Linked DNA regions of Homo sapiens: all the other regions are linked to region 1. The links come from fine-mapping of genetic effects on gene expression. A gene starts in region 1. Each other region holds a variant in brackets. All regions are shown on one strand. Distances are between the middles of the regions. Region 1 holds the start of MPZL1 (myelin protein zero like 1). Region 2 overlaps MPZL1 (myelin protein zero like 1). Region 3 overlaps MPZL1 (myelin protein zero like 1). Region 4 overlaps MPZL1 (myelin protein zero like 1). Region 5 overlaps MPZL1 (myelin protein zero like 1). Region 6 overlaps MPZL1 (myelin protein zero like 1). Region 7 overlaps TIPRL (TOR signaling pathway regulator).

Evidence for each region. PIP is the estimated chance that this variant, and not a neighbour inherited with it, causes the effect.
Region 2: its variant is fine-mapped to the expression of MPZL1 in NK cells (Schmiedel 2018, PIP 0.95).
Region 3: its variant is fine-mapped to the expression of MPZL1 in whole blood (TOPMed, PIP above 0.99).
Region 4: its variant is fine-mapped to the expression of MPZL1 in fibroblasts (GTEx, PIP above 0.99).
Region 5: its variant is fine-mapped to the expression of MPZL1 in lung (TOPMed, PIP above 0.99).
Region 6: its variant is fine-mapped to the expression of MPZL1 in whole blood (TOPMed, PIP above 0.99).
Region 7: its variant is fine-mapped to the expression of MPZL1 in lymphoblastoid cells (GENCORD, PIP 0.95).

What each region holds. Positions count from the first base shown.
Region 1 is chr1:167,719,735-167,724,145 of GRCh38, reverse strand. MPZL1 (myelin protein zero like 1) reads right to left here and starts at 2,164. Exons shown (of 6, transcript NM_003953.6): 1 at 1,904-2,164. The coding sequence starts at 1,994. RefSeq lists silencers at 1,525-1,664, 1,695-1,764, 2,155-2,524 and enhancers at 1,336-1,836, 4,063-4,411.
Region 2 is chr1:167,742,092-167,746,502 of GRCh38, reverse strand. The region is part of intron 1 of MPZL1 (myelin protein zero like 1); the gene reads right to left. Among named protein-coding and RNA genes, the nearest start is that of MPZL1, 22 kb to the right of the region's middle. The variant C/T (reference allele first, on the strand shown) is at 2,224.
Region 3 is chr1:167,777,070-167,781,480 of GRCh38, reverse strand. All of the region lies in intron 5 of MPZL1 (myelin protein zero like 1), which reads right to left. Among named protein-coding and RNA genes, the nearest start is that of MPZL1, 57 kb to the right of the region's middle. The variant T/C (reference allele first, on the strand shown) is at 2,333.
Region 4 is chr1:167,789,683-167,794,093 of GRCh38, reverse strand. MPZL1 (myelin protein zero like 1) reads right to left here. Exons shown (of 6, transcript NM_003953.6): 6 at 2,175-4,411. Among named protein-coding and RNA genes, the nearest start is that of MPZL1, 70 kb to the right of the region's middle. RefSeq lists a silencer at 1,363-1,511. The variant C/G (reference allele first, on the strand shown) is at 1,881.
Region 5 is chr1:167,769,444-167,773,854 of GRCh38, reverse strand. It overlaps MPZL1 (myelin protein zero like 1), which reads right to left. Exons shown (of 6, transcript NM_003953.6): 3 at 1,367-1,580; 4 at 487-619. Among named protein-coding and RNA genes, the nearest start is that of MPZL1, 50 kb to the right of the region's middle. RefSeq lists enhancers at 1,848-2,349, 3,284-3,855. The variant C/T (reference allele first, on the strand shown) is at 1,720.
Region 6 is chr1:167,759,603-167,764,013 of GRCh38, reverse strand. All of the region lies in intron 1 of MPZL1 (myelin protein zero like 1), which reads right to left. Among named protein-coding and RNA genes, the nearest start is that of MPZL1, 40 kb to the right of the region's middle. The variant C/T (reference allele first, on the strand shown) is at 2,468.
Region 7 is chr1:168,189,626-168,194,036 of GRCh38, reverse strand. TIPRL (TOR signaling pathway regulator) reads right to left here. Exons shown (of 7, transcript NM_152902.5): 4 at 2,537-2,668. Among named protein-coding and RNA genes, the nearest start is that of TIPRL, 13 kb to the right of the region's middle. The variant T/C (reference allele first, on the strand shown) is at 2,178.

The sequences.
Region 1 (4,411 bases):
ATAATGACCCTCCTTCAAGCTCCCACAGTACATCTTTACCAATGTGCTTCTGACCCTACACAGTGGCACACACCTGTAGCCCCAGCTGCTTGCGAGGAAAAGGCAGAGGAATCACTGGAGCCCAGGAGTTTCAGTTCCAGAGCAGCCTGGGCAACACAGTGAGACCTAACCTCCCACCTTTTAAGTGTTAAGCACTTAAAAGGTGCTCAGTGAATGTTTGCTGAGTAACTGTCTTGATAAAACTTTAGAAGCTATCCTGTAAAAGATAAACTCTTATGTGCAGTATCCATGACCAGAAAAGAGGTGATTTGGCAAGAATTTTAGATTCAATAATTTTCTAAGTTGAACCAATAACATCAGCTGCTGATTTTTACATATCAACATTCATCTTCATTACTGAAGAGTTACGTCCAAGTTGTATGGGGCTATTACTCTAGTGATCTTTTCACTACTATGTAGTTTTGCACTCCTTCTACGTTTAATACCCTGATTTTAATTAAGATCACCCTAACTGCTTTGTCCTCCATAGCAATGTCTGACCTCTCATGCATAACAATTCTGTCTGAAGCATATTTCTGATAAACCTTAATTTTAGGCTATTTTCTACTTGTTTGATTAAACACAAATACCACCACCAACAAACACACTTTTAACCTTTTTTTCTAAGACAAAATACAGAATGGATTGTGTCTTACACAAAGTGTGTCATCATCTGTCAACCCCTGGAGGGTAGGGAGACTTTTACATTTATGCTTTACAGCCCCTGGAATCACTGTTTAAGTGGAACAGTTGGTGATCCAACAGAACTTCACCTAGTTTCCCTGATCCAAGGATTATATTAAGAACTTTTCCATGAAGAAAGAAATTACTGAGTAAACTCTGGTATTCAGATACTGTGATGCTAAATCATAACTGACATTTTGAAAACAAAGGGAATGAAAAAAATCTACGTGGTTTCTTAGCAGCTGGCCCTCTTTATAACTATTATTTAACTAAATTCGGAGACAGCAACAAGTACTTTGCTTTGAACAACAACACAGAAAAGTCCTGTGGCAGATACCACTTCAGATGTCCATAAAACAAGTCATCCAATTCCCATAAATTGAGCCCGAGGTTTACCTTAAGCTTGAGTCACAATATTTGGTAAGAAAAAGGAGCTTTTTTTTTCCTTTAGGAAAATTATGCTTTTTAATGCTCTATGTCTTGTCAAATTATGGTGGCTACGTCTGGAATTATGATGGATTTGACCAAATTCTTTTAAGCCAGGCCATCTCACTGGTATTCCAAGCTCTTTGCATTCTAACCTAGAAGTAACAATATTTTTTTATTGGCGTTTTGCAGACCACGGAAATGAGACTCTTTTATTACGGAGACTTAAAACTGAATGAGAGCATGGGAAAGGGAACTTACAACAAAACCCTGGCTTAACAGGAAACAAATCAACAAAGGCCCTACAAATGAAAAACCTGCAACTTTCCGCCACCTCCCAAAGGTGAAGAACGCCAGAACCCTAGTTCCTGAGTCAGAATCCGGGAGGGCCTAGACGATCCAGAGTCACCACGAGGAGAGGGCAGGGTGCGCCGCGAGGGCTCACCGCAGCCGCCCGCCGGGTCCGCTCCCCTGGACCGCCCCCCGGGAAGGAGCAAGGTAAAGCACTCTCCCCTCCTCCTCCGCACTCCAGGATCCAGGAAAGAGAAGAAAGAGGCTCTGCGCCTTCCCGGCCAGTCGCGGAGGCCCGCGTTCCCCATGGGCTGGGTCCCCTCGGCCCCAGAGAGCGCAGGCCGCGCCCCCTCCCCACCTCGGCTCTCAGTGCGCGCGCCTGGCCTGCGACCGCCGCGATGGGCGTGTGTCGGGCCCGGGGGCCCCACTCCCCGGCCCCAGCCCTGGTCCTGGCATCACTTACAGAGCCCAAGCGCCGCCGCCAGCACCGACCACAGCCAGCGCCGGCTGTCTGGGGCTGCAATCACCGCCCCGGCTCCGGCGGACGCTGCCATCGTCCAGCCACTGCAGTCGCCGCCGCCGCCGCCGCGTCCCTGAGCCCGGGTCCCCGCTGAGGTTGGCTCGGCTTGGGGAAGAGGCTTCTGATCTCTCCGCCACCCGCGCCGGGTGGCACCTCCACGCCGCGCTCCCCACTCCGGTCCCAGCCGCGGCTCTCCAGCTCTGCACCGAAGCCTCAGCCCCACTCCGGCCCTCGCTGTCCGCTCATTGGCCTGCCCGCACCCTTTTAAGGACGCGATTGGAGAGTCAGGCTGTCCATCATCCGTCCGCCGGGAAGGCCCCGCCTCCTCGGTCCCACCCAGGCGCCTCGGCCCCGCGCGGAGGCCGGGTCTGCAGCGGTCCCAGGCCGAGCCGAGCCTTCCGCCTGCCTGCGTGGCTGTCCGCCTGCGGGCCCCACCAGCCAGCGTCTCCTCTGCCTTTCTCAGGGTCCAGTCCCGTGGTCCTCTTCATTGTCTCTCCTCGCCACAGGTCTTTGCTGGGTACTAACCTCGCCTCCGTTTCAGCTCTTCTTGTTCTCTGCCGGCCTCACCTAACGAAAAAGAAGCAATTCATTTACCTTAAAAAGAAAGAAAAGACAGAAAGAAAAATAATGAGGCGTTCAATTGATGGGGGAGAGACTTCTGATTCAGTCGTCCAGGTGGAACACGTTCCCCGTGCCGTGTCCCCAAGGCCTGTCCTTTGCGTGGACTAGATAATGTATGTGTTGCAATTTGCGAAATCTACTAGTTTAAAAAGAAGTCTCCATCTTGCCCTAACCTCCTCTTAGGAACCTCCCTCCTGGCTTCAGAAGGATGGGAATCTGGAACTCTTTCCTACTACCTGAAAAACAAATGAAAATGCTTTTTGATTGTTTTGCTTTCGCATATCTGTGTTCCTGTCTGTGTCCGTGAAAAATAGAAAGCAGAAGTTCCCAACACTGATTCTGAAGTGCCCTGCAGAAGTTCCCGACACTGATTGCTGGCCCTGCTCAACTTGGTTGCCTTGGCCCAGAACAGTCTGCCACCTACGGGTTGTCCAATCAATAGGGGAAATATTTGGAAGGATCCTTATGAAAATGGCTTACAAAAGGGAAAAATGGGGGACAGGGGCACAAGAAAGATGAGTGTGAAGGAGGAAAAGGGAAGATTCAGGTGGGAGGCTGATACGATGAGGAAGGGAAGCAAGCTTTAGACAATTAGGACAAGAGCGGGGGAAGAGTATGGTGAGAACCCAAAATGTAACCTCTCACTTCAGGGTTTTTGTCTAAGGTCAGTCTTAACAATGCCATTCCTGATATCTGTGCTGTTTCAGCTAACATTGCAGTACAGCGAAATCATAAGAACATTAGTGAGAAAAAAACTTAAAAAAAAAAAATACCAGAACCACTTTGCCCTATTTCTGTCAGCAGATCCTTTTGAAGTTGTATCTCAAATGCCATAGGTTGGAAAAGATACCAATGCATTAATTGAACCATGGATGTAGAACACCTGGGCTTTACTCTCAAGAAGCACATCGTCTACTAGTGTACACAAACAAGTACTCAATTACATTTGTAAAAATGAGGGCCGGGTGCGGTGGCTCACACTTGTAATCCCAGCACTTCGGGAGGCCGAGGCGGGCAGATCACGAGGTCAGGAGTTTGAGACCAGCCTGGCCAGCGTAGTGAAACCCCATCTCTACTAAAAGATACAAAAAAATTAGCCGGGCATGGGTGGCGCGTGACTGTACCCAGCTACTCGGGTGGCTGAGGCAGGAGAATCGCTTGAACTGAGAGAAGAGAGACAGAACCTCTCATATAGTTTTATACTCAGAAAAGGAAAGAGAAGCGAAATTAAAGGCAGGTAACCCGGCGCCTAAGAACCAGACCCGAAACCAGGCCTGGGCCTGCCTGACCTAAGCCCGGTAGTTAAAGATCGACCCCTGACCTAACCGGTTATGTTATCTATGGATTCCAGACATTATATGGAAAGGCATTGTAAAAATCCCTGTCCTGTTCTGTTTCGTTCTGATTACCGGTGCATGCAGCCCCCATTCACAGTACCCTCTGCTTGCTCAATTGATCATGACCCTCTCACGCGGACCCCCTTAGAGTTGTGAGCCCTTAAAAGGGACAGGAATTGCTCACTCGGGGAGCTAGGCTCTTGAGACAGGAGGCTTGCCGATACTTCCGGCCGAATAAACCCCTTCCTTCTTTAACTCCGTGTCTGAGGAGTTTTGTCTGCGGCTCATCCTGCTACAGAACCTGGGAGGCAGAGGTTGCAGTGAGACGAGATCACGCGCCATTGCACTCCAGCCTGGGCGACAGGGCGAGACTCCGTCTCAAAAAAAGGAAGAGTGAATAAAGAAGAAACCCAAGGCCAGCAGGGACAGTGACTCTCAGCAGTGTTTAAAGCTTCTCTGCTGATTGTGATGTACCTCAGCCACATATACCTCG
Region 2 (4,411 bases), 22 kb before region 1:
ACATATGTATTGTCTTCACTCTTCTGTTATTGGTGCCAATGCTGCCCACCCCTTTGCTGATGCAAACAGGGAGGGAGAGCTGCTTTACAATGCTGCCTAACATGCCAAGACAGCCTCAACTCCCTCGCACGGCACACAGAGCCTTTCAAAGGCTGGCTCCAGGTTACCATTCCAGCCAGTTTATCATTCTCATCTCATCCCAGAGCCTACATTTTTGCCACATCAAACTTCTAGCCCTTTCCCCAACACAGCACACTCTTTATAATATGCTGTATATGCTATCTCTCAGTCTGAATGCCTTCTCCACCAACCCACTCCCGTTGGGCCAACTCCCACTCTTCCTTCAAGGCAACTCCAAGGCAATCACCACTGCAAAGTCTCCCCTAACTCGTGGTCTAATCATAGGTATTTTTTCTGAAGTATAAATGAATTTTTTATTTTAAAAGACTTATAAAGGTGTAAAAATTGTCATAGTTCATGTAATTGAAGACACCACTGAGGGTAAGACACATTATTTTCTGTGTCCCCAAGAAATAAAAATGCTGGCTATGACTCGCCAACAATTGTAAGGCATATCCCAATATCAGAGATATTAAAATATTAAAAACTGTGTCAGAATTAATGAAAGGCAGTAAACCACAAACCTGAAAGGCATGTTGTCTTCCAACTATCAGTTAACCTATAACACATCTCAATAATTGTTTTCCAGCGTCTCCCTGGCTTCTGGCATCTAAGACTCTGAATTTTACCCAAATTTGGTTCTTCTATCTCTTGTTTCTTAGCTCAGAATTTAAAACCCAGGATATGCATAGTAAAATGAGTCCTATTTATTAAGTTTGAAAATAAGAGTGCCCATTTATTAAAAACATGTTTAATAAAATACAAAAAGAATATGACAAAACACAGAAATCAGTAATATCATAAAACTAAACAAAAACAAAAAAAGCTTCTTTGCCCATAGTGACCCAGGCAATCAATACCCAACATTTCAGCATCATCAGTGTTAACCCAAACAAAATAGAGATGTTAAGTATTTTCCGTGTTTTTAAAAGACACACAGGATATTCCCTGTGTTCAAGGTTCCAAAAACATTCTTGACATTAGTCTGCTGAATCTTCTATTCACACTATTAGTGACATGGTGTTTAGTACAATGCAAGATTTTTGCCCCATAACATAAACAATGACAAGCACTTAAAAATATATTTGTAATAAAGAGTCTGACATCATTTTTGATATTTGACTGCCAAGAGCTTTCAAGCTGTACCCCTTTCCTCAGGGCAAGCTAATAAGAAAGCCCAAGTGAGCCATCCTTTGGAACAGGTGGGAAGTTCAAACCAAGACCTGGCTGAAGGGGCATATAAGGACCTTCACTCCAGACTCAGCAACTTATCACCATAAAAGGAGAGCCAGTATCCTTTTCCTGCTTTCTCAAGCCATTCTTGTACCTGCATGGGAAGCCTGCCCTGCTCTCCCCAAAAAGCCTCAGTAAGTGAGTCATAAACCCTTTTCGTACCGTCCTGGTGCACATATGGTATCATCAGTTTCCACATCTTAACCAAATTTTGCAGTGGGGGGAGAAGTAGTGGATCCATCCGCCTCTGCGGAGTAAGCACAACATTTATTCTTAAACTGATGACAGTAAACATTATTCTGTTTTGATCTTACTCCCAATTTAATGGAAATAAATTTAACGAAACAAGTGGAAAAAAATATTTACTAGTTGTTGGAGTCTATAACTTTTATTAAGGTCTATATGTGAACTTGGAAGGAGAAAATGGGCAAACTGCTATTTGGAGGTTCTTTTTTTTTTTTTTTTTGAGACTGAGTTTCGCTCTTTCGCCCAGGCTGGAGTGAAGTGGTGCGATCTCGGCTCACTGCAACCTCTGACCCCCGGGTTCAAGTGTTTCTCCTGCCTCAGCCTCCCAAGTAGCTGGGATTATAGACGCACACGACCATGGCCCACTAATTTTTGTATTTTTAGTAGAGACAGGGGTTTGCCATGTTGGCCAGGCTGGTCTCAAACTCCTGACCTCAGGTGATCCACCCGTCTTGGCCTCCCAAAGTGCTGGGATTACAGGCATGAGCCACTGTGCCCGGCCTTTTTTTGGTTTTTAAAGAACACTTAGACTCTGGACATGCTTCCTAATTGTTTTACACATCAAAAGTTGTCCCCTTTGTAAGTTTTTAACAAGATGTCTAGAAAGGTTTCCTGAAAAACTTC[C/T]GGTGTGACTATGTGGTCTGCAACTATGTGAATCACAGGGTTACCCGAGACAAGAAAGAGTGATGTGGGACCTTGTGCAAAAAGCCCTCCATGCCTCAGTTTCTCATACTTTTAAGTTTATTCTAATAGTACCGACTTCAAAGAGTTATTACAAGAATGAAATGAGTTAATATTTGTAAAGGGCTTAGAATGCCTGTCCATTACATACCTCAATGTAATAAAAGCCATCTATGACAAACCCACAGCCAACATAATAATGAATAGGGAAAAGTTGAAAGCAGTCCCTCTGAGAACTGGAATAGGACAAAGATGCCCACTCTTACCACTTCTCTTCAACAAAGTATTGGAAGTCCTAGCCCGAGAAATCAGACAAGAGAAAGAAATAAAGGGCATCCAAATCAGTAAAGAGGAAGTCAAACTGTTGTTGTTTGCTGATGATAAGACTGTTTACCTAGAAAACCCTAAAGACTCCTCCAGAAAGCTCCCAGAACTGATAAAAGAATTCAGCAGTTTCCAGATGCAAAATTAATGTAAACAAATCAGTAGCTCTTCTATACACCAACAGCAACCAAGCTGAGAATCAAATCAAGAACTCAACCCCTTCTACAATAGCTGCAAAAAAAGTAAAACAAAATACTTAGGAATATACCTAACCAAGGAGGTGAAACACTTCTACAAGGAAAACTACAGAACACTGCTGAAAGAAATCACAGATGACATAAACAAAAGGAAACACATCCCATGCTCACGGATAGGAAGAATTAATATTGCGAAGGCCAGGCGCGGTGGCTCACGCCTGTAATCTCAGTACTTTGGGAGGCCGAGGCGGGAGGGTCACGAGGTCAAGAGATCGAGACCAGCCTGGCTAACATGGTGAAACCCCGTCTCTACTAAAAATACAAAAATTAGCTGGGCGTGATGTGCGCCTGTAGTCCCAGCTACTTGGGAGGCTGAGGCAGGAGAATTGCTTGAACCCAGGAGGCAGAGGTTGCAGTCAGGCAAGATCACGCCATTGCAATCCAGCCTGGCGACAGAGCGAGACTCTGTCTCGAAGAAAAAAAAAAAGTGAAAATGATGATACTGCCAAAAGTAATCTACAAATTCAACGCAATTCCCATCAAAATACCACCATCAGTTTTCACAGAACTAGAAAAAACAATCCTAAAATTCATATGGAACCAAAAAAGAGCCTGCATACAATCTGGAGACATCACATTACCTGATTTCAAACCATACTATAAGGCCACAGTCATCAAAGCAGCCTGGTACTGTAATAAAAATAGGCACATAGACCAAAGGAACAAAATAGAGAACCCAAAAATAAACCCAAATACTTACAGCCTACTGATCATTGACAAAGCAAACAAAAACATCAAGTGGGGAAAGGACACCCTATTCAACAACTGGTGCTGGGATAATTGGCTAGCCACATGTAGGAGAATGAAACTGGATCCTCATCTCTCACCTTATACAAAAATCAACTCAAGATAGATCAAGGACTTAAATCTAAGACCTGAAACTATAAAAATTCTAGAAGAGAACATTGGAAAAACCCTTCTAGACATTAGCTTACGCAAAGACTTCATGACCAAGACCCAAAAGCAAATGCAACAAAAACAAAGATAAATAGCTGGGACTTAAACTAAAGAGCTTTTGTGTGGCAAAAGGAACAGTCAGCAGAGTAAACAGACAACCCACAGAGTGAGAGAAAATCTTCACAATCCATTCCAAAATAAACTATAGTTCCTATTCTGATTATGGTAGACTGATGATAGACTATGGACTCCTTAAGAAATTCCCTCAGGCACTCCATATATATTTATTTTAAAAGTTGGCAAGTATCTTTTTTATTTGAAAGATACTATTAAGGTATCTGCCCATAATATAGTTAGGCGATACACTCTTATACTTGTTATATATTTATATGCCGGGTTTTTGATATTATGGAAAACAAGAACAATTTGATAAGATCAAAGATTTTTTTTTCTTTTTTTTGTCTTGCTCTGTCACCCAGGCTGAAGTGCAGTGGCATGATCTCTGCTCACTGCAACCTCCGCCTCCCAGGTTAAAGTGATTCTCCTGCCTCAACCTCCCGAGTAGCTGGGACTACAGGTGAGGGCCACCACGCCTGGCTAATTTTTCTATTTTTAGTAGAGACGGGGTTTTGCCATGTTGGCCAGGCTGGTCT
Region 3 (4,411 bases), 57 kb before region 1:
TTGTTCAATTTTGAAATATTTGAGACTTTCCAGGTATCTTTCTGTTGATTTCTGTTTAATTCCATTGTGGCCAGAGAACGTACTCTATATGATTCCAACCCTTTTAAATTTAATGAGAATTGTTTTATGAACCAGAATATGGTCTATATTTGGTTAATTTTCATGTGTACTTAAAAAGAGTAAGAATTCTGCGCTTGATGGAAGGAGTGTTTTATAAATGTCTATTAGCTCAAACTGGTTTCACTGTTAAGTCTTCCGCATCTTTTTTGATTTTCTGTAAACCTGTTCTACCAACTGCTGAGAAAGGAGTGTTGAAACCTCCAACTATGATTGTGAATATGTCAATTTCTCCTTTCAATTCTCTTAGTTTTACTTCACTTACTTTCAAGCTCTATTATTAGAAGTATAAATATTTAGGATTATGTCTTCTTCATGAGTAGATCACTTTGTCATCATAAAAAGTCTGTCTTTATCCCTGGTTCTATTTCTTGTTCTGAAGCCTATTCTGATATTATTACCACCCAGATTTCTCTTGATTAGTGTTAATGTAGCATATCATTTCCATCCTTTTACTGTTTAAAAAATGTGGTAAAATATATATAACATAAAAATTAGCATCTTTACCATTTTAAAGTGTACAGCTTAGTAGTGTTAAGTGCATTTACATCCTTGTGCAACCAATCTCTACGATATTTTCATCCTGCAAAAACTGAAACTGTACCAATTAAACAACTCCCTATTCTTCCTTCCCCAACAACTACCACTCTACTTTCTGTCTCTATGAACTGGACCACTGTAGGGTATGGGATATTAGTAGAATCACATAGTATGTCTTTCTGTGGCTGGCTTATTTCACTTGGCATATCTTCAAGATTCATCCATGTTGTAGCATGTGTCAGAATTTCTTTCCTTTTAAAGACAGAATAATATTCCATTGTGTATATATATACCACATTCTATTTATCCACTTGTATACTGATGGACTCTTGGGTTGCTTCTGTATTTTGGCTCTTGTGAATAATACTGCTATGAACATGGATGTACAAATATCTCTTCAAGACTCTGCTTTCAATTTCATCCTTGTATTAATATTTTTAACCTACCTGGATCTTTTTATTTAAAGTGGTTTATTGCAGACAGCATATGATTGGTTCTTGCTTTTCTATCCAATTTGTCCATCTCCACCTTTTATTGGCACACTCAGCCCATTTATAGTAATACAATCATCAGTCTGGTTGAGTTTAAATCTACCACTTCATTATTTGTGTTCTATTTGCCCCATCTACCCTTTGCTCATTTTCCCCTCCTTTCCTGCTCACTTTTGGATTAACTGAGTATTTTGAAATGATTACATTAAAGTTTCTTGTTGAAACCTCCAACTATGATTGTAAATACGTCAATTTTTCCTTCCAATTCTCTCAGTTTTACTTATTTTCAAGCTCTACTATTACAAGTATAAACATTTAGGATTATGTCTTCTTTGTAAGTAGATCGCTTTATCATCATAAAAAGTCCCTCTATCTCTGGTTCTATTTCTTGTTCTGATGCCAACGTTGATATTATTACCATCCGCATTTACCATTTTCCATGTTGTAGCATATGTCAGAATTTTGTTCTTATCAGTATTGCCATTCGGAGATAGAGCTTGTTAGCTGTATCTATCTCTTTTATTTTTTTCAGTGTTTGCTCTAGAATTTGCAGCATATATCTTTAACTTACCACAGTCTACCTTCAAATTATAATTTCATGGATAATATAAGGACCTTACAACAGTATTCTTCCATCCTTCCACCCCATCCTTTGTACTACTGTTGTCATACATTTTACTTCCACATGTTATAGCCTCATAAAATGCTGTCATTATTTTTGCTGTAAAGAGTCAATTTTTTTTTTTTTGAGATGGAGTCTCACTCTGTTGCCCAGGCTGGAGTGCAGTGGCGCGATCTTGGCTCACTGCAATGTCCGCTTCTGTGGTTTAAGCAATTCTCCTGTCTTGGCCTCCCAAGTAGCTGGGATTACAGGCGCCTGCCACCATGCCCAACTAATCTTTGTATTTTTAGGAGAGATGGGGTTTTGCCACGTTGGCCAGGCTGGTTTCGAACTCCTGACCTCAGGTGATCCACCCACCTCAGCCTCCCAAAGTGCTAGGATTACAGGCGTTGAGTCACTGCGCCCAGCAATTTTCGCTATTGCTTTCTGTGTGTTTATGTTTTTCATTAAATTTACTAAAAATTTCACTATTTCTTTACATATTTTTTTCTCTCCCTTTTTCTTCTCGGATTCTAATTAGATTGCTTGATATTGTCCGGTGGCTCACTGAAGCTCTGTTCAC[T/C]TTCTTTTTTTTCTTTTTTTCTTTTTTGAGACAGAGTCTCGCTCTGTTGCCCAGGCTGGAGTACAGTGGCATGATCTCAGCTCACTGCAACCTCTGCCTCCCAGGTTCAAGTGATTTTCTTGCCTCAGCCTCCTGAGTAACTGGGACTACAGGCACGTGCCACCATGCCCAACTAATTTTTTGTATTTTTAGTAGAGATGGGTTTTCACCGTGTTAGGCTCTGTTCACTTTCACCCCGCCATCTGTCTTTCTCTTTGAGCTTCATTTTGGATAGTTTCTATTGCTATGTCTTCAAGTTGATTGACCTTTTTTTTTTGCAGTATCTAATCTGTTGTTAACACCATCCAATTTTTTTTTATTTCCAGAAGTTCCATTTTGGTCTGTTTTAGATATCTATTTCTTTCCTCATTGGGTTCAAGCTTTCCTTTACATCTTTAAGTTTACTAATAAGATTGATAATACTCATTTTAAGGTCTTTGTTTATGAATCCCATCATTTCCATCCATTCTGAATTTGTTTCTGATTGATTTCTCCTGATTTTTTATTGTAATTAATTATTAAATTATTATTTTTTTAAATCTATCCATCCATCCATCCATCCATCCATCCATCCATCCATCCATCCTTCCTTCCTTCTTTCCACCCATCTATTTATTTGAGATAGGGTCTCACTATATTGCCCAGGCTGGTCTTACACTCTTGGGCTCAAGCAATCCTCCCACTTAGGCTTTCAAGTAGCTGGGACTACAGGTACACACCACTATATCTGGCTTATGTGTTTTATTTTTTGGTTTCTTTTTATGCCTGATAGTTGTTTTTTTTTTTTTGAGATGGAGTCTCACTCTGTCACCCAGGCTGGAGTGCCAGTGGTGTGATCTCGGCTTACTGCAACCTCTGCCTCCCAGGTTCAAGTGATTCTCCTGCCTCAGCCTCCTGAGTAGCTGGGATTACAGGTGTGCACCACCACACCTGGCTAATTTTTGTATTTTTAGTAGAGATAGGGTTTCACCATGTTGGTCAAGTTGGTCTCGAACTCCTGACCTCGTGATCCACCCGCCTTGGCCTCCCTAAGTGCTGGGATTACAGGCGTGAGCCACCGCACCAGGCCATGCCTGGTAGTTTTTGATTGGTGCCAGACATTGTAAATTGTACATTGTTGGGTGATGAATTTTGTTGTAGCATAAAGCGTGTTGGATTTTGTTGTAAAATGCAACTAAATTACTTTTGGATTAGTTTGATTCTTTAAAGGCTTCCTTTTAAGCTTTGTTATGGTGGGTCCATAGCATCCTTTATTCTGGTACTAATTTAACCCATTTAGGTATGACCATTTTGAGAACCCCAACCAATACCCTGTGTATTATAAGTCTCTCTACTCTGGCTCTTAGGAACACAAACTAGTCCCTCACCTGTGTGAGCACCAGGCATTGTGCAACCTACTGCATTTCAGGTAGTTCTTCCCCTGGTTTCAGAGAGTGTTCTCCTATGTGTATACAACTCTGTAATCAGACAAAGACTCAAGGGGACCCCGCTCCAAATCTCTGAAGTGCTCGTGCTCATCCTAGCACGCTCTCTCTATGGTTCCTTCTTTGGTACTCAGCCTCATAAATCTTAGCCTCCTTGACCTCCCCAAATTCTGATTTCCGCCTTCTCAATTGAGTGAGACAGCTGGGCCCAGTTTCCATTTTCCCCACCTACACTGCAGTGTGGAAACTGCTTCAAGGCAGTACACTGGGGCAATAACACGGCTCACATTGTCTGTTTCCTTTCTTTTGGGGATGACAGTGCTGCATAATTTGTGTTCCACTGTCTTGAAAACCACAGTTTCTTTTTCTTTTTTCTGGTTTGTTTTCAGCAAAAAAGCAACTTCCATAGTGCTTCAAGGGCGGAATAAAAATGTTCCAATGCTTTTTTAGATGCTATGCCTATGTGTATGTAACTTTCATGTCTTCATTTACAACCATATTCCTGTTCACAACCCAAATTAGTAGACTGAGGTATCTGACATATATTATGTAATGTGAGAGAGAGACAGACAGATAGAACAGGAACAAGTAATGAGCCTGATGCTGTGGTAGAGAA
Region 4 (4,411 bases), 70 kb before region 1:
TCTATCTAAATCAGGACACATCTATTATTGTATCACTGGAAAAAACTGAGACAGATCATAGAGCTGAACATAATCCAAGATACACATAAAGCTATGAGTAAAGTTAATGTACAAAGTGTATATGGAGTGTACAATCTGTGTACAGTGGTAGAAAGTGACCCACAAATTTGGCTAGGACCTAGAGAATAGCAAAAGCAAAGAGACAAATACAATCAGTGACAAGTCAGTGCACATGACTAGTTTGAAACAAAATATTCATAAGAAACAGTTTTCCTGGTGTATTACTTGTTTTCACGCTGCTATAAAAGATACCTGGGACTGAAGGCCAGGTGTGGTGGCTCACGCCTGTAATCCCAGCACTTTGGGAGGCCAAGGCGGGCAGATCACCTGAGGTCAGGAGTTCGAGACCAGCCTGGCCAACATGGTGAAACCCTATCTCCGCTACAATACAAAAAAAAATTAGCCGGGAATGGTGGCGCATGCCTGTAATCCCAGCTACCCAGGAGGCTGAGGCAGGGGAATCGCTTGAACCCAGGAGGTGGAGGTTGCAGTGAGCCGAGATCGTGCTACTACACTCCAGCCTGGGCGACAGAGTGAGACTCCATCTCAAAAAACAAACAAACAAACAAAAAACAAACAAAAACAAAACCCCAAGACTGGGTAATTTATGAAGAAAAGAGGTTTAATTGGCTCACCGTTCTGCAGGTTACACAGGAAGCATAGCGTCTTTGGCTTCTGGTGAGGCCCCAGAAAGCTTCCAAATATGGCGGAAGGCAAAGGGGTAGTGAGGCTTCTCATGAGGCGTCTCACGTGGCGGGAGGAGGAGCGAGAGAGCAGAGTGGGAGGGTGCTGCATACTTTTAAACAAACAGGTCCCATGAGAACTCACAATCACGAGAACAGTACCAAGGAGGACGGTGCTAAACCATTCATTAGAAATCTACCCACTGTGATCCAATCACCTCCCACCAGGCCTCACCTCCAATGCTGGGTATCACAATTCGACAGATTTAGGCTGCGACACAGATCTCAACCATATCATCTGGTATTAAATCCAGAGAGATATTTGTGCTGTGGGTCTTTATAACATTGAAAAATGTATGACAGGGAATAACGTTCTCAAAGCCATGCTGGCAGTAAAGTACAATAAGTAGCTAGTTTCCTAGGACTCTTTTTTATGACATACTTCAATGTAGGCTGATAGAATTATGTCAAAGGGGCTGGGCCTAGTGGCTCACACCGGTAATCCCAGCATTTTGGGAGACTGAGGCGGGCATCTCTACTAAAAATACAAAAAATTAGCCGGGTGTGGTGGCGCGTGCCTGTAATGCCAGCTACTGGGGAGGCTGAGGTGGGAGAATCGCTGGAACCTAGGAGGTGGAGGTTGCAGTGAGGCAAGATCATGCCACTGCACTCCAGCCTGGATGACAGAGCAAGACTGTCTCAAAAAAAAATTTTTTTCAAATTATATCAAAGGGTAATTTCATTAAAGTAATTCTACAAAAAAACAAAATATATTGAAATTGTTCATACAATATCTTGACTATGCAAGAGGAAAGTGCAGGGGAGAACCCGCCATAAAAGCAGATGGTTGGCTCCTACCACCAGCTCTACCAATACCACAGATGCCACTTTCCTCCCCGTGGCTGCTCCCTCGCCTTTCCTGCACAGTGGGAGGATGAAGTCAGTGGTTCCCCAGTCCAGTTAGCACAGGAACTACCCAGAGGGGTCAGAAGGGAGCCAACTGGGGTGAGAGAGTATCTGAGTTTCCTCTAAACACTGCTCAACTCAGCTCCCTCAGGGGTGGAAGCTGCTCTCATAAATAAAAAGTCCATCTTTGGTTGGCAAGGCCCCTATGTAGCTTGGAAACCAGAGCCCCAG[C/G]AGGTGGATGCCCTCCGACACTTAGTGCTGACTTGGAAGGAATTGCAGAGATGACAAAAATGTGATTCCATCACTCACTGCTGCCCTTGTGTGGTGAAGGAAGCATCCCTTTTCTTTTTGTCACATCACGCAAGATGGATGCTGTTCACATGTGAGAATTACTCCCAGGGGAGTTCCTGCCAGCTGTAACTCATCTTCTCCCACTCAAGAACGCATTAGGTTTTGCAAGCCCAAAGTTATGCAAGGCAGGGGCTCATTGTGAATCCATGGTAATTTATAAAATTACTAAGTCACTGCGAAGCCTCAATGTTTTATTAGTAACACATTATTTGTAACATAGTTCTCAACAAATTAAGTCACCACATTGTCTTCCAGACTGAGGTTAAAGCTCTCAGACATCTGTGCCTACCACCTAGACTACACTACCCTCTCAAGTTCCTAAGGGACTCTCTAACCAGCTCCTAAGGGACTGGGAGAAAACTGCAACTGCATTTCAGCACATTTATTTGAGTAAGGAAGCAGTTTGGTACTTCCTTTTGGTGTGAGAGGCCACAGGGCATAGTGGTTAGGAACAAGGCTGTGGATCAAACAGCGGCCCCAGGCCCAGCCCCTCTTCTCTGTTCCTTTATTAGCTAAGTGGCCCTGGGTAAGCCATATAATCTTTCAAACAATGGGATTAAGATTAGTACAATTACTGTTAACTCACAGAAATAATAGAGAAAGAAATGCAAAGTGCCTGGCTCACACCAAGTATTTGGTAACTACTAGTTACTTCCATTCATGTCACCTGTCACCTCCACCCTGTGGCAAGCTCCTTGAGGAGCTTTGTCTTGTTTTGTTTCCTTATGCTTAGCACAGTGCTTGGCACAGGATTGTTCTCAGTGTAGGTTGCTGAATGGATGAATGCTTCCACCTACTCATCCATCCACGTAACATGTATTGAGCAGCTAAGTGCCAGGTGCTGTTCCCTTTACTGCAGACGGAGCAGTGAACAAAACAGCAAGGTTCTGGTCTCTTGTTAACTATGTTCTAATGCGGGAGAACAGACAAGTGTGTACTGGGAAAGAGGGAGAGAAATAGAGTAACTAGAGCAGAACTGAGGGGGCCAGGAAGGCTGAGGCGGTGGGGTGGGGGGCTTGCTCTTTTATATATCACAGAAGGTCTCCCTGAGGAGGTAACATTTGAGCAGAGGCTTAAAGGAAGTCAGAGAGCAAACCACAGGAATATTGGCAGAAGGCATGCTTCAGGCCCAGGGAACAGCATGTGCAAAGGCCCAGAAGCAGGCACACGGACGGCATTTTTGAAGAAAAGAAGGCAGGTGTAGCTGGAATGATATGAGTGAAAGGCATATCTCTTTTTCTATTCTGGTCAAAATGAGCACACAACACAATTCAGAAATTGAAAAAGATGTATTAAAATATTCACAAAAATACAACTGAAGATCAAAAAATAATAATGAGCTTGATGGTTTTTCCCTAGCTGATATATTTCCATTGAAAAACTAGAGATAGTTTGAAATTTCAATCTCTAAGTAATGCCTTTTGAGTGCTCCCATACAGAATTAGCGCATAATTTTAAGACGACCCTGTTTGCCAGGACGAAGACATGGAGAGGGCAGATCTGCCCTTTAGGCAACCTTAGTTCGTTATCTGCAACCAGGAAAGGAGTGCTGAGGCACAGGGAAAAGGGGAGCCAAAAGGGCTGCAGGGGTGGGTGTGCAGGGCTTGGGAAGAGGTCCTGCCCTGAGAGGCTCATCTCAGTGTGAGCAGCTTCCTTCAGGGAAACCTGTCCTGGCAGAGCACCATGCTGGCAGCTGCCCTTGCCTGGGGGGAAGGTTGGTGAGAACTGGTGAGGATTCTCTGCCAGAATGCCAGGGCACTGACAGAGTTTGAGGTGTCTGGTTGGGCAGGAGGCCAAGAAGTCGGGCTGGGGAAGGGAGTGGTAAGGGAGGAACAGGCCTCCAGGTGTCATTCGAGTGAGTGGCCCCCACAGCACCAGCTTCACCAACACATGGTCCCGGCACCGCAAGAAGAAGTGAAGGCTCTTGCTCTCAGGGAGCTCCGAAATGTTTCATTTATTCACAGGAACTGTTGAGAAAGCAGTGAAAAAACAATGCCCCTTTTCTCTGTAAAAAACGACTGTAAGGAAACATGACACAGGCCTGTCTACAATGTGTGTCCTCTGTACCTCAAGCACAGCCCTGGTCAGCTATGTGGTTTTCATGGTGGCAAAGGCTCACCAGGAGTCTCAGCTTGAAGGATGGTGACAATCTCAACACCCTTCCCCTCCAAACATAAGAGGCCTTCCAAAGGCTCCTATAGTTTTCAAAATAGATGCCCAAAAAGTTTTAGGATGCAAGGCAGAGTTGACCACTTTGTGGAAATGTCTCAGGGCCAGCACTGTGTGTCACTCTCTTGGGCTGGGCCTATGAACATGGAAGGCAGCAGGGCAGGCGTTTTTTTCTCCATTCCACACAGAACACAGAGCAGACGCTGCCCAGCTTCAGACATGTGTGGTGACCAAACCTGATC
Region 5 (4,411 bases), 50 kb before region 1:
AACGCCTCGGCTCAAGCAATCCTCCTGCCACAGCCTAAGTAGCTGGGACTTACAGGCACATGCCACTAATTCCAGCTCACAACTTCTTAATTAGGGTTTTATATTTCCTAACTGGAAAGAACCACCTTGTGAGTTTATTAGCAAGAAATTGAAATTAAACTCTTAAATTGGGTAAGTGATGTCTTAAGAATACTAATTGCATAGTGGATGGTATTGAAACACAGAGCACAGACTGCTGAGCAGCTCATCTCACCAAACCTAAGAAGGAAACTGGAACAGAGATTAGAATCATATTCCACATTTAATAGCAGGCCCACTGATTTCCACTTGCCCATGTTAGAACACCTCCTAAGGAGACTGCCTGATTCTGACATGAAAGAAAATAGTAGTTAATTCTTTAAAATCCTTTTTTCATTAAATACAGAAGTTTCTATAAACCCTGATTCCCTCCCTCCACCCCTGCCCTAAAAAAACAGTGTTTCTTACCCAGTGTAATCCCGTTTAGAGTTTTTCCTTCTATAGAGGACAGCCAGAATCATGCTGATGAGCAGAGTGAGACCTAGGACCACAGCAGTAACTATGCCCACCACTACCCAAACTGGAAACACAGGCAAATTCTCTAGAGAGAAAGAACAAAATAGTTTTAAGGTACATTGCTACAGAGAGAAAACATGGAATTTTATTAAATTAACGAGCAAGTATCTTCATTTAGCAGTTACCGTACCCTCTTTTATTATCCAAACTATGAGATCCTACTATCTATCCTATTACTATGTAATTCATGACATGTGAATATTAGATGAGAAAGAATGAACTATGGAACTAAGCATTTCTACACCTACAATCCCTCTCAGTGCTCTAAAGAAAAACCGGAGGTGTGAATTTACCTGGATCTACTCTCCAACAAAACAGACTTTGTCTCAAAAATGAGACACCAGAACCTGCATTTCCTGTTTGTTCTCAAAATCAAAAGGAAGAAATAACTGTGCTGTTGTTGAAAGCTTTCTCCTGGAGAATATAAAACAGTATGAATCTCCTTCTTTCCCACTGCCCATCACATCCAAACATAATGAATTTGGTCTTTCTTCTAATTAACACTGAAAAATTCATACTCCTGAAATTAGACCAATAGGCACCAGACGGTAGGAATAAAAATGGAGAAATCAGCCACTCTGGGTCAGAATGAGCAACAAGTTTCCCAGCTCCAAGTGTGTTTGGTAGAGCCACAGGTTCGTGGCAACAGGGAGCACAACTGTATGGCAAAAATCCTCCCTCCAAACCCACCATGAAATGCAACTCATGTTTTCCAACCAAACATGAGATAAAGGAGACTGCATTATTACTGCCAAAATACTCAAGGAAGTACCTTTTTCTACGACATAGAGCCTAATGTGTCCAGGCTGGACAACGATGTCAGGAGGGTTTTTGACATCACAGATATAGGTGCCATTGTGTATAAACTGCATATTTTCTATGTTGATTGATGCATCTTTCTTGTCAAGGTCTCCAGCCCAGCTGATTCTGTCTTTAAATGGTGGATAATTCCCAAGGTACACTTGCCCTTGGGAGTAGTGGAAAAACTGCAATTAGAAAAAAGGAACACATGAACTATTCTCAAAGGCAGAATTCCTAAACTCTGTAATGTGCATGCTATGAAAGGTTCTTTTAAAGACTTCATACGGAAAGAAATGCAACATCTCTCTCCCTCTCCCTCTCCCC[C/T]TCTCTCTCCTCCTTTTTTCGGTCTCCCTCTGTTGCTGAGGCTGGACTGTACTGCCGTGATCTTGGCTCGCTGCAACCTCCCTGCCTCGGGCTCCTGTGATTCTCCTGCCTCGGGCTGCCGACTGCCTGGGATTGCAGGCACGTGCGGCCACGCCTGACTGGTTTTTGTATTTTTGGTGGAGAGGGGTTTTGCCGTGTTGACCGGGCTGGCCTCCAGCTCCTGACCTGGAGTGTTCTGCCTGCCTCAGCCTCCCAAGGTGCTGGGTTTGCAGATGGAGTCTTGCTCACTCAATGCTCAATGCTGCCCAGGCTGGAGTGCAGTGGTGTGATCTCGGCTCGCTGCAACCTCCACCTCCCAGCCACCTGCCTTGGTCTCCCAAAGTACTAAGATTACAGCCTCTGCCCAGCTGCCACCCCATCTAGGAAGTGAGGAGCGTCTCTGCCTGGCCGCCCATCCTCTGGGATGTGAGGAGCCCCTCTGCCCGGCCACCCTGTCTGGGAAGTGAGGAGCGCCTCTGCCCGGCCACCACCCCGTCTGGGAAGTGAGGAGCGCCTCTGCCTGGCCGCTGTGCAATCTTCCAAGTGTGAAGTGACAGCCTTTCTGCACGTGTACCCAACAGCTCCGAAGAGACAGCGACCATTGAGAACGGGCCATGATGACGATGGCGGTTTTGTCAAAAAGAAAAGGGGGAAATGTGGGGAAAAGAAAGAGAGATCAGATTGTTACTGTGTCTGTGTAGAAAGAAGTAGACATAGGAGACTCCATTTTGTTCTGTACTAAGAAAAATTCTTCTGCCTTGGGATGCTGTTAATCTATAAACCTTACCCCCAACCCCATGCTCTCTGAAACATGTGCTGTGTCAACTCAGGGTGAAATGGATTAAGGGCGGTGCAAGATGTGCTTTGTTAAACAGATGCTTGAAGGCAGCATACTCGTTAAGAGTCATCACCACTCCCTAATCTCAAGTACCCAGGGACACAAACACTGCGGAAGGCCGCAGGGACCTCTGCCTAGGAAAACCAGAGACCTTTGTTCACGTGTTGACCTTCTCTCCACTATTATCCTATGACCCTGCCACATCCCCCTCTCCGAGAAACACCCAAGAATGATCAATTAAAAAAAAAAAAAAAAAGAAATGCAACATCATATTACAAATCACAAGTTATGGAATCTAAGCCAGACAGAAGTTTAGAGATCACGGCACTCAACCCTGCCAGGTTTCAATGGAAGAATCAGACTCATATATCACCTCTAATCCTCTCAATATTTCATTGATATAATTATTACCACCCATAATTTTATAAAAGACAAAATGGAGACTTAAGAGAAGCCATTTTCCCAAGGTACCAATGATAGTAAATTGGGGACCCAGAGTAAAATTTAGGCCCATCTGAGTCTTCAAAGCCAATGTTCTTCCAGTAACACCATGATTGAGCCCAGTGATTCCCAAGGCTTCAGAAAGCTTAGTGTTGAGTTAGCTTACCACTAAGATACACAGAAGCACAAAGGAGAAGAATCCTAAATATCTCAGATCAGCTAATCTGAGTTTCGCCCTCTTCCTTCTGGTTTCCTATGGAAAAGTCATGGGTGTGTGAAAGGAACAAAGCCCAGATAACACAAGATACTCTTGCCGGCTTTTGAAAGTTCAGCCTTTAGCCCCTTTCTCTTTCCACTCCTCAGTCTCTCCTCAGTCCTGCTTTCAGCAAAGGAACTGTCTTCTCAAAGTAAACCTTGTCAAACTCAGCACCTGGAAGCAGGGTTAAGGCCCAGTGGGAGGGGATCTATCCTCACACTTGGCTCTAATCCAAGCAGCTATGCTGGAGGCCTGATGTCTTTGTTCTGGTTAATGGACGGGGTGATGGTGGAGCTGGGGATAGAAACCAGCTCTATTAGCAATTCAAACAGAACATTTTCAGAACCCTTTGAGCACGGTGAAAACCCCAGTGCAGACTCATCCATTCCTATGATTTAATGATCATCTAGATTTTCTTAACTCCCAAACCTCTCTCTCCATCAATAGCGTCCCCTAAGCTCTAGACTCCTTGCCTACTCACTTTACCACCTGGCTGCCCCTCTCCCCCAAGCTTGTCACCCTCTCTTACAAACTTCATCTTCCCCTCTTCATGTATCGTGTCTTCACTGATGGCTACTGTTTCTTTCCAAAACCATAAATCTTGAAGTCATCCTTGATTCTCTTTCTTCCTATCCAGTTAATCCCCCAATATTGTCAATGTCTCATTAGTTTCTCTCAGTTCTCTCTTCTCTCTATTCGGTTCCCACTGACAATATCTGTTTTTATGTTTTCATCATCTTGGACTATGGCCTCTTAACTGGTATGTCTAACTCATCATCTTCCACAATGCCTAAATGATCACTGATAAAGAATAATGGTTATTATTATAACATTTATCAAATATTTACCCTGCATTTCATATGACCTAAATGCTTGTTAAGAACCGTGAAGGGTCTGAGATTTTACCCTACTTACAAGCTAACAAAGTTAGTTGGCCACAGGTTCATAGGTGCTGACAGAAGACACGGACTCCTGTGAAATCTTCACTCCCATGAAGAAGACTCAGAAACAAAGAACCTTATGAGCAGAAAGCATGTGTTTGTTTCTCTTGCCCCGCAAGTCCCATAGCCATGACATGGAGGGGCTCACATGGATGTTGTGCAGGCAGAGGCGTTGCA
Region 6 (4,411 bases), 40 kb before region 1:
CCTTGAAGACTTAACTGACTCTCAGCCAAGGAGAACAAGAGTACTCCCCCATTCCTCCCAACCATCTTGCAAATGTTTATTCTCAGGACATAATGGGCACTTTTGGCTATTCTTTTAAATAAACTGATAGCCATACTGCATCAAGCAGATTTTTTTTTCTGCGAAAGAGGGTGGATTATTATTACAGGGAACAATAGATTATTATTTGCGGTCCAAACCTCAAAACAAGCATTTCTTTCAGAGGAGATGCAAACAAAAGAGTTCCTTGCTATTGTGGGTACGCAGAAAAGCAGCCCCAGGGCACTTGAGTTCAAAATGAAGGACAAAGCACAAGACTAGACTAGTGGACCAGCTTATTCCAGGAAGCAGCACTGGCTTGCAACCCTTATTCACTCTGTGTGATTTTGACTAGTTTTCTCCATGGTGATGAGTACTGGAAAGCCACAGTCTCTAAAAGTCTATAAATAAAGTTTCTCAAGGATTTTCTTTTCTTTCTTTCTTTTTTTTTTTTTTGAGACCGAGTCTCAATCTTGTCACTCAGGCTGGAGTGCAGTGTTGCAACCTCCGCCTCCTGGGTTCAAGCAATTCTCCTGCCTCAGCCTCCCGAGTAGCTGGGATTACAGACACCCACCACGACGCCCAGCTAATTTTTGTATTTTTAGTAGAGACGGGGTTTCACCATGTTGCCCAGGCTGGTCTCGAACTCCTGACCTCAGGTGATTCACCAGCCCCGGCCCCCCCAAAGTGCTGGGATTACAGGCGTGAGCCACCGCACCCAGCCTTCTTCAAGGATTTTCTTAAACCAGATCCCTTCCTCGAGGCCTAGCTGCAAGACTTGTCATCCCGAGACATTATTTAAAGATGGAATTAGACCAAGTGTCCAAGTTTACAGTCACAGAATTTTGAGCAAAAAGACTAACCAAATTCCCAAATGGCTTTTAGGCATCTATTTAAGACACAGATTTCATTATACCAAAGTTAGGTAATAAACAGGTGGCTTTTTAAAAAACACACAACACTCTTTGGCTAATCTGAACGTGTAGCTCTTAGCCAGGATTATGAAATCCAAAGCTAGCCCATCAGCTAGCTCAAGAAAAAGAAAATGATGCCACACACTGAGAAATTAACTTCCTCCCATCCCTGGCTATCTACACTTTTCTCTAATACTACTCTTGTCATCATTTTTGGAGATTTCATCAGTTGTAAGATAAACCTTCTAAAACCCTAGTCTGTTTATCTTCTCCAATAATCTGGGTAAGATCAGGCCTACCCCAGCCACTCATTTCTATGGTCATACCTGTTCAATCAAGTTTAGCCTAAAGCTGCCTCCTTACATATTTTAAGTTCAGCCTAAGGGTTTTTCTGTACACTGTGAACTATAACAAGTGTAGGTGTAAACAGGCCGTAGCCAATCACCTTGGGCCAAGCACCGAGTTTTGGCCAATCAAATGTAGCCAACTGTTCAAATTGTGTTCAAGTAAGGCAAATGCTGAGCTATAATCAATGCAGCTGTTTCTGTACCTCACTCCCGTTTTCTGTACATCACTTTCCTTTTTCTGTCCATAAATCTTCTTCCGCCACGTGGCTGCGCTGGCGTCTCTGAGCCTACCTTGGCTCAGAAGGCTGCCCAATTCGCAGTTCATTCTTTGTTCAGTTAAACTCCTTTAAATTTAATTCAGCTGAAGTTTTTCTTTTATACCCTAAACCAGGGCTTCTCAACCTCAGCACTACTGACAACTGCCACAGACAATCCTTTGTTGTGGGAAACTGTGCTATACCTTGTAGGATGTTGAGCAGCACCCCTGGCCTCTACTAGATGACAGCAGTATCTCCTCTGCCTCCAGTTGTGACAACCAAAAATGTCTCCAGACATTGCAAATGCCTCCTCAGAGGTGAAATCCCCCCAGTTGAGAATCACTAGCTCTAGACCCAATCATCAGTACCTGCACCCACTCCAGAATCGTAGTTTCAGGCTTCTCTACTCCCTAATTGACCACCTCTTAGCTTTCCAATATCCTCCAAAACCCTGAGTTCACTGATCCCTAAGCTGCATCAGAAACTAAAATCCCAGCATGTCTTCATTTGCCTTACTCAGACTAAACCCCATAGGCCACCATTATACTCACCCCCTTGCATACACAATCAGCTCTCTTGCCTCTCCCTTCAGGGCCTTCACCTGGAACCTCTATCCTGGTTAAATTCAATTCTCTATCCACTATGCATCTCCACCAGGGTGGCTGACCACAGCTGGACAAAAGCACACAATCCCACTGACTATTTTCGCCTTAAATGTATGGTCACTAACCTTAAAGGGACTCTTAATGCTGTCTAGCAATCCACCCACATTGCCCTAATCCATCTGCTTTCCATTTCCCTAGAGGACTAGTTTAAACCTTCCTCTCTAACCTCAAATTTCCACTTCCTCTGGTTTCTCACTCCCAGCTAATGACTGAGCTGCTTATTTCAC[C/T]GAGAAAACAGAAGCAATGAGAAGAGAACCTCCCTATGTCCAGACACCATAGCTACCCACCTCCCTGCATCTGTGCCCATTCTGCTTTCCCTGCACTCCTATGTAGAAAGTGTCTGTCTGCATCCCTCTCCAGGATGAACCTCTCCACTGCACATTGCATCTCATCTCTTGCCTACCTAAGGACATTTATTGATCCAGCAATTCTCCCTCTTCTGAATTTTTCACTCACTACTGAATTACCACCAGCAGCAATATAAACATACATATTTATATTTATATCCCAGGTTTAGAGAAAAAAAACCTTGACCCTGCATCTCCCTGCAGCTCTGGCCCCTTTGTCCTCCTTTATTTTATCAATCTTGAAAGAACTGTCTGTACACACTGTGTCCAATTTCTCTCCTCTTCTGTTCTCTTGGATAAATCCAATTTAGGCTTTCATCTCCGTTACTCCATAGAAACTGTTTTTGTTAAGGAATGCAATGACCTCCATGGTTAATTCTCAAATCTTGTCTTATTGCCCTATCTAAAACCTTTGAAAGTTACTCCCTGCTAAAACCTTTTTTTTTGTTTTTTAACAGTTTGGCTTTTGGAATGCCTCTCCCTCTTGATTCTCTTATCTCATTGACTGCTCCTTCCCTGGTTCTCCTGACCTCTATATGATTAAGAGCCCAGATCATTTCTCTGACTGCGTATCTATTTAACATTCCTTCTCTTGGTGACCTCACTCAGTTTCAAATGCTGATGACACCTGTACACACACACACACACACACACACACACACACACACACACACACACAGCCTATTCAACTTTGCTTGGATGTAATTGGCATCATCTCAAATTTAATATGTCCAAATTAAACTCCTGATTCCCACCCCCCAAACTTCCTTTCCATGGTCTTCTCCAAATCAGTAAATGGTAACACCAGTTTTCTAGTGGCTGAGACCAAAACCCTGGACTGTTTTGTGACTCCTCTCTTTTGCACAACTTTCCTCCAAGCTGTCAGCTACACATGTCATCTCTACTTAGAAACCTATCTAGAGGGGCCGGGTGCGGTGGCTCACGTTTGTAATCCCAGCACTTTGGGAGGCCAAAGTGGGCGGAACACCGAGGTCAGGAGATCAAGACCATCCTGGCTAACATGGTGAAACCCCGTCTCTACTAAAAATACAAAAGAATTAGCTGGTGTGGTGGCGGGCGCCTGTAGTACCAGCTAATCGGAAGGCTGAGGCAGGAGAATGGCGTGAACCCGGGAGGCGGAGCTTGCAGTGAGCTGAGATCACACCACTACACTCTGGGCGGGGTGACAGAGCGAGACTCTGTCTCAAAAAACAAAACAAAACAAAACAAAAGAAACCTATCTAGAAATTGATCTCTCTCTGCCTCATTTGGTGTCACCATCTTGGTCCAAGCCACTGTCATCTTTCACCTGGATTAAGTATTGATAGCTTCCTAATTGGTGTCTGCCTCCTTCAGCCTTCCCCACTTCACAGCAACTAGTCCACAGAGAGGCCAAAGAGATCTCATTAAAATTCAGGTTGGATCATATCACTCTTCTACTCAAAATCCTCTATGGGTTTCCCATCAGCCAGATCAGGCCAGTCCTCAAGTGGCCTACAAAGTCCTACATGAGCTAACTCCTGGCTACCTCTCGGACCTCATTGCCTACCCTGACCCCCTCAAATATGTTGCAGCAGCCACCCTGGTTACCATGTTTTTCCTCTGCCTATTGTGAGTGTACCCCAGATAGAGAATGCTATGGACAAAGAGACCAAAGGTATCCCAGGAAATCACGATGCCATGAGAGACAAGGGAAGAGTGGCCAACTGTGTCAAATGCTGAGAGCTGGGCACTCTGCGTAGTTGATTGCAGCGAGAAATTTCAGTGAAGATCCTTGCTTAAAACTGCACATGGTTTCCTTGCACACAGCATCTAAAATCCAAA
Region 7 (4,411 bases), 470 kb before region 1:
CATTTTGGAAAATTGTGTTAAGAGTCACTGATTGATACCTTACATCTCTGTCAGCCTACATTTTTTGCTGTCACATTTACGGTGACTCAATATGCAAATATAAGTACCTGACTGCTTCATTATGTCTTTGGTGCAGTCATATTATGCATTTAAGTATTAAAATATATTTTATTCTAAACCAATTTCCTTTAATTTTATAGTTAAAATATGTTGATTGCTGCAAAGTAGGTGGATTAAATCATCTACAAATTTCACTACAGGATAGTAATATCTATGAACTAATACTTCAGCTTAAAGTAGTTGGTTAAAAAAATGCTCTTCAGTTTAAGACTTACTATGTATTCTTGTACACACATATTTATACACATATCCTTTCAAGCAACTCCATCCACAAAACCACATGTGCTTTCCAAATACCGACCCACTTATAGACATGATATATATACCCCCTTGGATACAAATGCACACCCAGGTATGCAAACTCATAATGAACATTTAGCATAGTCAATTCAACAGGTGGTAGACAAGTGGAAAGATACAAGACTAGGTGAACTGAAGAGAGAATAAATCTAAACAAAAAAAAGTGAATTTAGAGTTATAAGTGAGCAAAGAAGTAAAGCCTATGAAAACAACTATCTAATGCTAGAATAATGATATATATTAGATGATACAAAGAAAACTTTGCAATTAGTTTCATGACCTTAAGCTATCTTTTTAGGCCTTATCTATAAAATATGGAGGCTACAAAAAATGATTCTCTAAAAATTCACTACAATTTCAAAATCCTTTGATTCCACCGAAAAAACTAATTTTATTTTTAGATAAGAAAAATAAAATTTTTTATTTATCTAAAAATAAAATTATTTTGTCTCCCAAGCTGGGGTGCAGTGGCACCATCATAGCTCACTGTAGCCTTGACCTCCTGGGCTCAAGCAATCCTCCTGCTTCTGCCTCCCAAGTAGCTAAAATTTGACTTTAAAACAAATCTGTTGCTGCTTTTGTATTATTTTCATTCTTTAAATCACAGCATCCACAATCATTATGCCCCAAGAACAATGTTTGATGTTAGGGTCTCTGTCTTTGACAGATCTCATGACAAATGCTATAATTGAGAGGTTTTTTGTTTGTTTTGTTTGTTTGTTTGTTTGTTTTGAGACGGAGTCTCGCTTGTTGCCCAGGCTGGAGTGCAGTGGCACGATCTCGGCTCACTGCAAGCTCTGCCTTCCGGGTTCACGCCATTCTCCTGCCTCAGCCTCCCGGGTAGCTGGGACTACAGGCGCCCGCCACTGCGCCCAGCTAATTTTTTGTATTTTTAGTAGAGACGGGGTTTCACCATGGTCTCGATCTCCTGACCTCGTGATCCGCCCGCCTCGGCCTCCCAAAGTGCTGGGATTACAGGCATGGGCCACCGCGCCCGGCCTAATTGAGAGGTTTTTAAAAAGGAGTATAGAAAAGAGATATTTAACTCTGTGTAACGGAGTTGTGAAGGGCCTTGTAGAAAAGGTGGTATTTTAGCTGGGTCTTTGGGTCTTAAAGAATGAGGCATTTAGTAAAAAGTTTCAGTTGAGTTATTTCTGGAAAGTATTAGAGACCCAATTATAATGCAGTGGTAAAGAAATATGAATAACCATACTTGTTATGTGTGTTTTCTACTTCTTTTATTTTATTTTATTTTTTTTTTTTGAGACGGAGTCTTGCTCTGTCGCCCAGGCTGGAGGGCTGGAGTGCAGTGGTGCGATCTCAGCTCACTGCAAGCTCCGCCTCCCGGGTTCACGCTTCTCCTGCCTCAGCCTCCCGAGTAGCTGGGACTACAGGTGCCCGCCACCAGGCTGAAAATTGAAGTGGTAGTTGAATGATGCACTGAAATCATAACACATGGATCATTTTAAAAAATGACATCCACCTTGCCGTCTGCAGATCCTATCAACATCATTTTTAATCCAAAATGTGAAAATTAAGCCACAGTCTTCATTAGAGTTAAATAATAAACAAATAAACTACAAGGTGGCCAGGCAGGTCTATTAAAAATGCTTTGCTAAAATAAAGCCTTAAGAATACACAAATATTTTGTGAATTTTATAATGGATATTCAATAAGATACACTCTAGATTCAAGTGAAATTGTACATGACATCATGTTAAAGCTCAGTGTTATTCTTTTTTTTTTTTTTTTTTTTT[T/C]GCTCTGTCGCCCAGGCTGGAGTGCAGTGGCGTGATCCTGGCTCACTGCAAGCTCCGCCTCTTGGGTTCACGCTACTCTCCTGCCTCAGCCTCCCGAGTAGCTGGGACTACAGGCGCCCGCCACCATGCCCAGCTAACTTTTTGTGTTTTTAGTAGAGACGGGGTTTCACTGTGTTAGCCAGGATGGTCTCGGTCTCCTGACCTGGCGATCCAGCCCGCCTCAGCCTCTCAAAGTGCTGGGATTACAGGCGTGAGCCACCGCGCCCGGCCAGGCTCAGTGTTATTCAAAGTGAGTCATATTTTTGTCTGATGTTAAGAATGCAAGAAAAATATTAATTTTAAATAAAAATAATACTCACAATCTTCACACTCAGGCTTGAAACTCCATGATCATGAAGTTCATCCTCAAAAAGGAGAACTTCTTCAAAAAACTTAATCTGTTCTCTGGCTTTCAATTTTTCTGTATCTATATGATCTGTTGTAGGTACAACCTGAAAGAAAAAATTTTAAAGAGGAGCACATTAAAAAAAAAGTTGAGGAGCTACAGAGACACAGGAAAGCAGTCTTTTCTTTTCTTTTTCAATCAGTCTTTTCTACATAGCCAGAGCACACAGTTCTAAATTTGGGTGTCATTAGTAGATATAAAAGATCAGAATATGGCTTGATTCTGAAAACTGAAGACATTACAGATGCCCAATATTATAGCTTCACAAAAAAAGCAGTAAAAATTTATCATTTTTCATGCAAGTCATATTAAAATCAACTTCTGTTGTGACTATGAGAAAATTAATCAACTAAACATCAGTCAGTGTGATGAACGACTGCTATCATAGAAGGTCATAGAACATTTGTGCTGTGAAAGCCACTTTTAGGACATTCATATGGAACTTAAAAAATATTTTTCCATTAGAATGTTAGATATTTGCTCAACCTAACTCCCCAAAACCTACAACAAAATAAAGTGCTTTAAATAATGAGGTAAACAAGAACTTGTAGAGAAATTCTGAGGGAAACTCTTAGCATTGCAAAGAGCTTTGAATGAAGTTGGCAATTTTTCAAGGTATTATTTTGTAGCTCTAAGACATGCACACACGTAATCCAACAAAAGCATCAACAGTCCCAAGGCAGATCATATCAGGAGCTCATTAAACTCAAGTGTCTCCTGAGCAGCACCCAAGTATGAATTGTGATACTATTTTCTACCACACCTAATTTCACTACAAAATGCTCAGCTGTTTTACTCCTTGACAGGTTTACCATAAACAAACACAACAATGCTTGTCAAACCATAGATATTTAGTAAATGTAGCTTTACTTAAGCGTCATGATTAGGTGATTTGTTTTGACTCATGGACAAAATTAGCAGATGGAGAGTAATTTGAGATAACTAGATAAGAATCAGAAGAAAATTACAAAGGATGTTGTTTACAAGACTGCACAGATTTTGGGAGGAAATCTAAGGGAACGTTAAGTAATGTAGGGGGAAAAGATGCCATGAAAAGAAAGTGGCAGTTTGTATATGATTTCCAGGAGGTAAAAAAATGTCCATAATTCTTCCATGGTCACTTAGAGATAACACTTAGCCCTAAGCAGTTTTACTTCCAACTGTGTACGGAGCAGGTATAAGGCCACTCTTGAGGTGAAAACTGGGAGGGGAAGGGAGTTGGAGTGTAGGGGCAGGGCATATAACCAGTCCCCTGCATCACACATTAAGTTTATGATCTAGTTAAACAAAAGTTGGTCTGCCAACGAGGACTGCCTAAGGTTACACAACTGAAATTAGTGTTAAATACACACACTTGTAAATTTCGTCCTTTTTATTTGATTTTAGTTCAGAGGAACACATTTTTAACATCCTCCTTATAGATACTCCTGAATCCCCCAAAATTAATCATTATCTGAATTTTCTCATTAGTAAATTGCTTCATTAATGTTTCACATATGCCTTCAGTAAGTGATTGGTCAAAATGAATCTGTCAGTTTTTCCATTTACGTACTTGTTCTTATAAAATGAAAGACAAAGTCAAAAAACAAAGCATGAGTTAGAGATATCATATTTAACTTATTTATGCTATTGTCTCCATTTGCAAGGCTAAATATGTCTAAAACTTTATACTTTTCAGCTCTCTTCCTCAACTCCACATATCTCTCTCTGAACCCAGGGATCTAAAAAATACAACAAAAAAAAAATAACCAGCTAAATATAAAACATATGGGCTGGGCGCGGTGGCTTA